Linked DNA regions of Homo sapiens: region 2 is linked to region 1. Evidence: fine-mapped expression QTL. A gene starts in region 1. The other region holds a variant in brackets. All regions are shown on one strand. Distances are between the middles of the regions. Region 1 holds the start of ELOA (elongin A). Region 2 has its middle 26 kb from the start of RPL11.

Region 1 (4,389 bases):
AAAGTGAAAACAGAGTTACAGCAATGTCTAGTACCAAAAAATCCATGAACACAGGTGTGGAATCAAACCCTTGGCTAATAATGGTTTGAAAGCAAGATCTGGTTGTAAATTCAACAGGGCTATATAATCATCTTGCAATTTCACATACAACCTGTAGGAGCTTGTTAGGTTACCAGAAGGTTGAGAGGAACAAGGCCAACATGACAGCTTGCAATTTTCCCTCTGCAGTTAACTCATATCTGAATGCCGACTATTATGCCCTTTGCAAAAATGATCTCCCAACATTTTCTCATCTTCATGATGCTCACTTCACAATGCAAAGCTAGAAGTTCAGGGTGATTTTCTATCTAGAAAGAGCCCAAATCCTCAAAAAAAAAAAAAAATCATTAATAGTTCAACTAGGTTGAGGTGGAATAAGCCTTTTCCTAATTTTGTATTTCATGCAAATCAACTAATAGAAAAACTACTTCCAAATCTAAATTCTAGTTAAAAAAAAAATGACTGTAGACACTACATAGAACATTTTTATCTGACAGAAATAAAGAACAAATAGTGGGTAGTTATTATATGGCACTGCTTTAAGGTATCAAACGTCAGTCACAGATCTTACAGTGTTCAGGAAAACAAACTAGTACTAAAAAATAATGACCATTTATTAGATGTCCACAAGGGGTTACTGTAAAAAGAAACTTGTAAGTATGCCTGACCACTAGGTACGGTACTGAAGCTGCAACAGAAAACATGGCACAATGAAAGCATTTTAAGTTTTCCCAGATTTGTAACTAAAATGGCTTCCTGAGGAAGTGAATCTTCGAGCTAGGTATGAACGAAGAGCCTTAAAAAGTGGTCTGATGGTGAGAGGCTGTGTACGGCCTTTGGAATTGCAGAAACCCTACCTCCAACAGGCTAGAACAAGGTAAAGAGAAAGTGGCTCTTCAAGAAAAAAAACCCCAAAGAATGACGATTGGTTTTCTGAGCACTGACTTTCAGCCTGGTACCTTAGCCTTTCAGGTTAGTCCTAGGAAGCAGCAGGTGAGGAAGAGGCTCAGCAGAGCAGTTCCCCCACGGCCCTAGCCCTCCCTCCACGACTTCCTTTTCCACCAGGACTGAGTTCCAACTCCTAGAACTGCCCGCCCCGGCCAGAATGATGACGGAGAATGCCAAACACATAAGTGCTTTTTCATCGTTGTACTTCCACTTAAAAAATCCTGACAACTGAGTTCAAGACCAGCCTGGCCAAGATGGTGAAACCCTGTCTCTACTAAAAATACAAAAATTAGCCAGGCGTGGTGGCGGGCGCCTACAATACCAGCTACTCGGGAGGCTGAGGCAGACAATTGCCTGAACCCGGGAGACGGAGGTTGCAGTGAGCCGAGATCGCGCCACTGTACTCCAGCCTGGGCGACCAGAGCAAGACTCGCCTCAAAAAAAAAAAAGAAAAAAAAAAATCCTGACAACCACCAGACTGTCTCCTGGAGACCAGAGAAGTGAGTGACAGAAAGATGAAAAGGTACAAGAACGCGTTTAACTTAATATTCAGTTTGTACAATAAACAACAAAAACTAGTTAACTACAATTAAAAATGGTTGTCCATCACTCGAACAACGAGAAACGGTAGCTCTTACCTTCCTATTAATGGCCAAAAGGAAACCTAGCTGCGACTTCCAACCCCGGGCCCCCGCCTCTTTTTCAATTCCAACCTAAGTTTTCAGGAGTATGCTTAGGTGACGCGAGGCTTTATTCTGTTTTGAAAGGGATTCACTGAGAAAGCGAAAGGTCCACGCTCTGATATCCAGCCGGAGAGTAGTAACCGCGTCTCCGAGAGGCGCGGACCAGACCGCGAGTCCAGGCTCCGCAGCGTTCGGGCGCCCGTCTTCTCCTCCCAGCGAACACGCACCCGCTGGGGAGTCCGCGCCGCTCCGCGGGGAGCCGGGCACCAGCGCAGGCACCGGGAGGCCAACGAGGCGGCGGCCAGCGCCCTCCCGCCCCGGGCACGCTCTCCCGCAGGAAACAGCTGGCTCGGGACGCCACGGAGCGCCTCTGGGAGGAAGCGCTAGGCACGCGGTGTCCGCACCGGGCGCGCCCCCATCCCGGGCCCGTGAGGGAGGGGGAGCGGCCGGGGCCCCGCGTCCCGACGCCCGACGCACGGGGTCCCAACGCGCGGGCAGCGGTCAATGGCCGCGAACTTCACGACCCCAGCCCCGCGGGGCCTGGCTCAGGGTCCCAGCCCCCGAACCCCGCCACGCTCGGGCCGCGACCGTTACGGGGCCCTCACCGACCCAACGCCCATCCCGCTACGCGCCGCCCCCTCGCTTACCTTCTTAGGGTCCGGGTTCGCGGCCAGGCGCGCCTGCAGCTTCTCCACAACTTGGAGCGCCGACTCCGCCGCCATCGCTGTCACTGGCGCGGCCTCCTCGCCGGAACTGGGCTCGCGTCGCGTCCTCGGGCCGCAGCTCCGCCCTCCGTGCATCCCCGGCGGAGACGGAAGCGCGCCTGGCCCCTTCCGGGCCTCGGCTGGGGTGTGTGGGGGGCGGTGGGCTGCAGGCTCCGCCCCCAGGGCCCGCTCCCCAGCGCCCACCCGGCGGCCGCGCACTCCTCGCGCCCCTGGCCCAAGTGTGCGCGCTGGGGGCTGGGGGCTGCTCGGGCCGTACGCGCCTCCGCCGCCGGCACCCCCGCTCCCTGTGCTCGCGTGCTGAGCCCAAGCCTGGAAGACCTCTCCAGGGTCTACTTCAAGACGGAATGAGGCCACCGCGCCAGACCCTGGCCTTATAAATGCCAACGCTTTCTCCCGCCTGGGGCTTAGCCACACCCTAATCAACACCTTGTCAGGGGTCCCGGGCTGGTGCCCGTCCTAGGAGTCCGCAGGCACCCGCGGTAGCAGCCACCCTAGGCTGAGCACACGATGCGTCAGTAGTTAGACTATCTTTTCCAGCCTCAGTACAACCTGATGAAACGAGTTGTATGATCTTCATTTTACAGATGAGGAAACTGAGGTTCAGGGAGACCAAATTAACTTGCAGATGGCCGCAGGACAGGAAAGAACTGAAAATGGAACCTGAATCTAAGATGTCTAGGACCATTGTGAGCGCACATTTCTGAACAGGTCGAGGAATTGAGGCCCAGAGAAAGGGATTTTTCAAAATCCAAACAGCTTAGTTCCTTCCATGAGGCAATAATAGCCCATGTGTCTTGTTTTCCCCACAAACAGTGTCTGGCACATAGGCACTAAATAAATACTTATTGCATGAATGTATAGATAGATAGATGTTTCCTCTGATGACTTGCCAATGAGCCGTATGGCTTGATTAGAAGAGCCCAAGATATTATTCTTCAGGCCGTCTACTCTCATCCTAAAAGCACTAAGTTTTACCATTACTAATACTACTACTAAAAAGAGCAACTAAATAGTTGCAAACTCACTTAAAGTACCAGCACTGATTACATCTCATTTGATCACATCAAAGCAGAACCTAATCAGATCTTCAGCAGCAAATTGGCAATGCACCTAGCCTGATCTCTCCCTCAAAGCAGGAAAGCCCAGAGATTCTTCCAGATTCTAGCTCTGGAAGAAAGAAAAACATCTTAAACACAAGTTGTTTCTTCAAATGAGCATTCATTCACTCACTATGCTGAAAAGCCCTCTCTACCATGTCCCTACTCCTCCATTTGGCGCCCCTCCCCCAGTTCCCTAAGCAACTGACCACCTTTTCAGGGTGTAAATGGTCAGTTTATTTATCTGTCTTGCCACTGGGCTGTTTATTTATCAAGTACAGTAACCGACCTGTCCAACTTTGAATCTCTGCCACCTAGCATCATCTAGACCTTATAATCAGCATTGGATATAAAGTCCATACAAGACTAATGACCATCCACTTGGTACCCTAAGGCTCAACTGAGGGATGTTGTAGAAAAGGCATTGAACTGGGTGTGAGAAAACTTCGATTCTAGTCCCAGCAGTAGTGTCTCCCTCCTCTGCGTAGCAAATACTTTTACATTTTATATTCCTTCCATTTTGAAAATGTACCACTGGTGTAATGGAATACAGACTGATTCTTGAAGCAGAATTGCTGAGTAATTGGCCTGGCACATACTCGGGACACATGAAACATTCTGCAGATGTTATCCAGAGAGAGCTCAATAACCAAAATGAAAAGAAACAATGAGGTTGGGCACAGTGGCTCATGCCTGTAATCCCAGCACTTTGGGGGTCAAGACGGGAGGACTGCTTGAGCCCAGGAGTTTGAGACCAGCCTGGGTAACGTAGTAAGACCCAGCCTCTACAAAAAATACAAAAATTTTAAAATTAGCCAGGCATGGTGGTGCGTGCCTGTGGTCCCAGCTACTTGGGAGACTGAGTTAGGAGAACCATTTGAGCCCAGGAGATCAAGA
Region 2 (4,389 bases), 26 kb after region 1:
GTGGCCTCTAGAAGCTGGAAAAGGCAAGCAAACAGATTCTCCCTGGAGCCTCAGGAAGGACACAGCCATGGCTATACCTTGATTATAGCCCAGTGAGACCCATTTTGGACCTCTGGCCTCCATAAATGTCAGATAGTAAGTTTGCGGTAATTTTTTTACAGCAGAAATAGGAAATGAATACACTGCCTTAGTCTCTGTCCTGCACCACAGGGCCTCACGTTCAGCCCAGGGGTCACACCAGCTCCTAAGTGCAAAGTCACACTCACAGACAGATGCCCCTTGGCCACCCCTTGGGCCTAGGGGTACACACACCAGTGTTCTGGGGAGGAGGGACCCAGGGAAGAGGCTCTGGAAAACAGCAGGGAAATCTGGGGTTGTGACATGTGTAGCATGGTCTAGAAAGGGGTATGGGCTTAGGGTTGGCACAGCTCCTAGGCTGCACGGCCTCCTCACCTGCTCACTTGGGGTAAATGGCTTCACCTCCCTGAGCCTCATCTGTAAAATCAACCATGTGGATCATTATTGAGCACATCATCTGAGCCAAGTGTCCTACTTAGTATCAGAGATTTGAGAATGCCTCATCCTTGTCCTCAAGGAACTCATCTCCTAGTAATTCTGACCTCACAGGGCTTCTACCCAAGAAGGGAATGGTAGGTAAAGCAGCTGACACATAGAAACCCCTCAATAAACTTTATTTTCCATTCCTTTCTACTTAACCAAATCAAGGGGCTTACCAATTAAAAATAAAAATCCCTTGCCCAAACTCTTTGATGGATTCCATCTGCTCCTAGGAGGGGCCTAAAATCCTTTGCAAGCCCAACCTCCACCCCACTCTGTGTTCCACATACAAACCTTGTAATTCCTCAACTCCACCAAAGGGGCGCTCCTGCTTCTGGCCTTCGCCTTGCTGTTCCTGCTGCCTGGAATGTCTTGTCTTCCACAAACACCCACCCCTTCTCACCAAGCTTTCTCTTTCAGGGCTTAGTTGAAATGCCATTCTCCTGGTGAAGCCCTTCTCGGTTTCAGAACCCCACTAACCTGAGCAGGTTTACCTGCCATCTTCTCTCCCAACACCAGATAGGACTCTCTGTAGCACTGACCATGATGGCTATTATATGACTACTATTTGTATTACCTTTTGTTGGTTAAATATAAAATGAATTTATTTTCATAATTTTAAATTTCATGTTCTTCAAGACAAAGTCTCAAATGTATTATTTTTGTGTTGTGGTAAAATAAATACATATATCTAACATTTAGCTATGCCATTCAGTCAGTGGCATTCTGTAGATCCACACTGCAACCATCACCAGTATCCATCTTATCCATCTCCAGGACTTTTTCCATCCCATGCTCAAACTATGCACCCAATAAACAATAACTCCCTATTTTTCCCTCCCCCAGCCCCTGGCAACCATAGTTCTATTTTTATCTCTGTGACTGTGACTACTCTAGGTACCTCACACAAGTGGAATCATAGAATATTTGTCCTGTTCTGATTGGCCTATTTCACTTAGTATAGTGTTTTCGAGGTTCACCCAAATGGTAGCACGTATCAGGATTTCATTCCTTTTTTTTTAAGGCTGAGTAATATTTCATTGTATGGACAGACCACGTTTTGTTCATCTATTCATTTGCTGATGGATATTTGGGTTGTTTCCACTTTTGGCTATTACGAATAGGGGTGCTATGAACATCAGTGTACACATATTGGTTCCTGGGCTTTCCATTCTTTTGGGAATATGCCCAGAAGTGGAATTGCTGGATCAAATGGTAACTCTATACTTAATATGTATTACTTTTTGTCCACTTTTTATTGGTTTATGCTCCCTCCCCACTTCCTCCACTGTAGTCTAGCACCATGAGGGTAGAAGCCACGTCTGTCTTCCTCTGTGTTTCATTGTGTGGTACCCTCACTAGACTGTGAGCTCCCTGCAGGCACAGATTGTGACTAAACCATCTCTATATCCCTGGTGGGGGCACTAAATAGTTGGTGAACCCATAAGTAAGTGAACTAGAGCAAAGCGCCTAAAATAAAGGCGATACATCGATGGGTCCAGCATGGGCTTGGCCCTTCAATCAACATTTGTTAAATTAATGAAACAATGGCAATTTAGCTGACTTGGGTGAAGGCTGGAAGCCTGAAGCAGATGTCACAGAAGAAAAGTGACAACAATTCCTGACGGGGATTTTCACTCCCAGAGGTCCCAAAGAGACTGACTGGCCATAGATCTGCCTGGTTTTCTCCCTTTCTTTTTCTTTCTATGACTGGCCATAGATCTGCCTGGTTTTCTCCCTTTCTTTTTCTTTCTTTCTTTTTTTTTTTTTTTTCCGAGATGGAGTCTCACTCTGTCGCCCAGGCTGGAGTGCCATGGCGTGATCTCGGCTCACTGCAACCTCTGCCTCCCGGATTCAAGAGATTCACCTGCCTCAGCCTCCTGACTGAGTAGCTGGGATTACAGGTGCACACCACCATACCCGGCTAATTTTTGTATTTTCAGTAGAGATAAGGTTTCACCATGTTGGTCAGGCTGGTCTCGAACTCCCTCGTGATCTGCCTGCCTCGGCCTCCCAAAGTGCTGGTATTACAGGCGCGAGCCACCG[T/C]GCCCAGAGATGAGCTCTCGCCATGCTGCCTGGCTGGAACGCAGTGGCTATTCACAGGTTCAATCACAGCATGCTATGGTCTTCAACTCATGGGCTCAGCCTCCCACGTAGCTGAGACTACAGATGCAAGCCATGTTTTTGTTTCCTTAAGTTTTCTGACATTCATGCCTTTACATGGGGTTTCATACTCCCTATGTTCTTATCTGAAGCTATTTGGTAGAATCATATAAAACTGAGCCAGGCACTGTGGCACATGCCTGCAATCCCAGCTACTTGGGAGAATGAGTGGGAGGATTGCTTGAGCCCAGGAGTGTGAGAACAGCCTGGGCAATATAGCAAGACCCCGTCTCAAAAACCAAACCAAACAAAATTGAGCCCACGGATCTATGCTTCGTATCTCCTCTTGGGGCAACAGAGCACAGTGTGAGGGGTCACTGTGAATCAGAAGGATCAGGGTTAGCATTCAAGTTCCACCACTTCCTGGTGGTGACTCTGAGGCCCTCTTTTCCTTGTAAAATAGGAATGTTATATATAATTCATAGGACAACTGTAAAGATGATCTCAAATATGTCAAACACCTAGAACAAAGGAGATACATACTGGCCATGTTAGTTCTCCCTTATCTCCTCCTCCTCCTGTCTTTCTCCATTCCTCTCAATCCCCCTGTGTGTGCTCAGCTGATAGACATGATAATATCTTTTTTTTTACATCAGCATGAGGGAAATTTATAAAACAAGGACCAAAGGAATATATCCTGGAGCACAGAGGAATTCATTATACACACATTCTCTCCATAGAGGTTCAGTCCACAATTAAAGCTGAGAGATTCTGGCCCGGCGCAGTGGCTCGCGCCTGTAATCCTAGCACTTTGGGAGGCCGAGGTGGGCAGATCACCTGGGGTCAGGAGTTCGAGACCAGCCTGGCCAACATGGCAAAACCCCATTTCTACTAAAACTACAAAAATTAGCTGGGCGCAGTAGTGGGTGCCTGTAGTCCCAGCTACTCGGGAGGCTGAGGCAGGAGAATCACTTGAACCTGGGAGGTGGAGGTTGCAGTGAGCCAAGATCGTGCCATTGCACTTCAGCCTGGGCAACAGAGCAAGACTCTGTCTTAAAAACAAAATAATAAAAAAAAAAAAAAACTGAGAAATTCTTTACAATTCCCAGATAAGAAATGTTAGACACATTGACAAACACTGACCACATGACCACATGGATGATGGCAGCAACTCACAGGTCTACACTGTGGTGGGGTTTGCCTGGCACTGTCACATACATGATCTCTCTTGAACCGGGCAGGAAACAGATGGAAAGCATAAAGATTTACCTAAGGTTACACGGCCTGCATAAGGCAGTAGGGTATAATGCAAAGCATTCAGGAGATTTGGGTTCAAATTCTGACTCTGTCATTCCCTCATTCTGTGACTTAAAGCGATATAAAGTAAATGAGACTCTGATTATCTGTTTAAAAAAAGATAATTACTTGAGGCATATGATTTTTAGACACTTGTCCTCTACAGTATGATACTGTACCTTCTTTGAGAGAGAGAAAGGACAAACTGAATGCAGAGGGGGAAAGGCGAGCATCAAGTTCCACCCAAAGGATGCTTGGGGAGAGGTGCTGGGAGGGTGGTGTGTCGAGGGAGGGCATGGAATCTGTGTCCTCTCCCCCATACCTTGCCTTTGCATCTCTTCATCCGGCTGTTCACAAATTTAAGTGTCTCCCTGTGTTCTGTGAGCCATTCTAGGCAAATTAATTGAACTCAAGGAGGGGTAGTGGAACCGT

What was found. PIP is the estimated chance that this variant, and not a neighbour inherited with it, causes the effect. A credible set is the group of variants that fine-mapping cannot tell apart.
Region 2: its variant is the best candidate, but not a certain one, in a credible set for the expression of ELOA in whole blood (INTERVAL, PIP 0.87).

The regions. Positions count from the first base shown.
Region 1 is chr1:23,741,507-23,745,895 of GRCh38, reverse strand. ELOA (elongin A) reads right to left here and starts at 2,425. Exons shown (of 11, transcript NM_003198.3): 1 at 2,318-2,425. The coding sequence starts at 2,392. RefSeq lists silencers at 1,764-2,243, 2,394-2,623.
Region 2 is chr1:23,715,171-23,719,559 of GRCh38, reverse strand. No RefSeq gene overlaps it. Among named protein-coding and RNA genes, the nearest start is that of RPL11, 26 kb to the right of the region's middle. The variant T/C (reference allele first, on the strand shown) is at 2,605.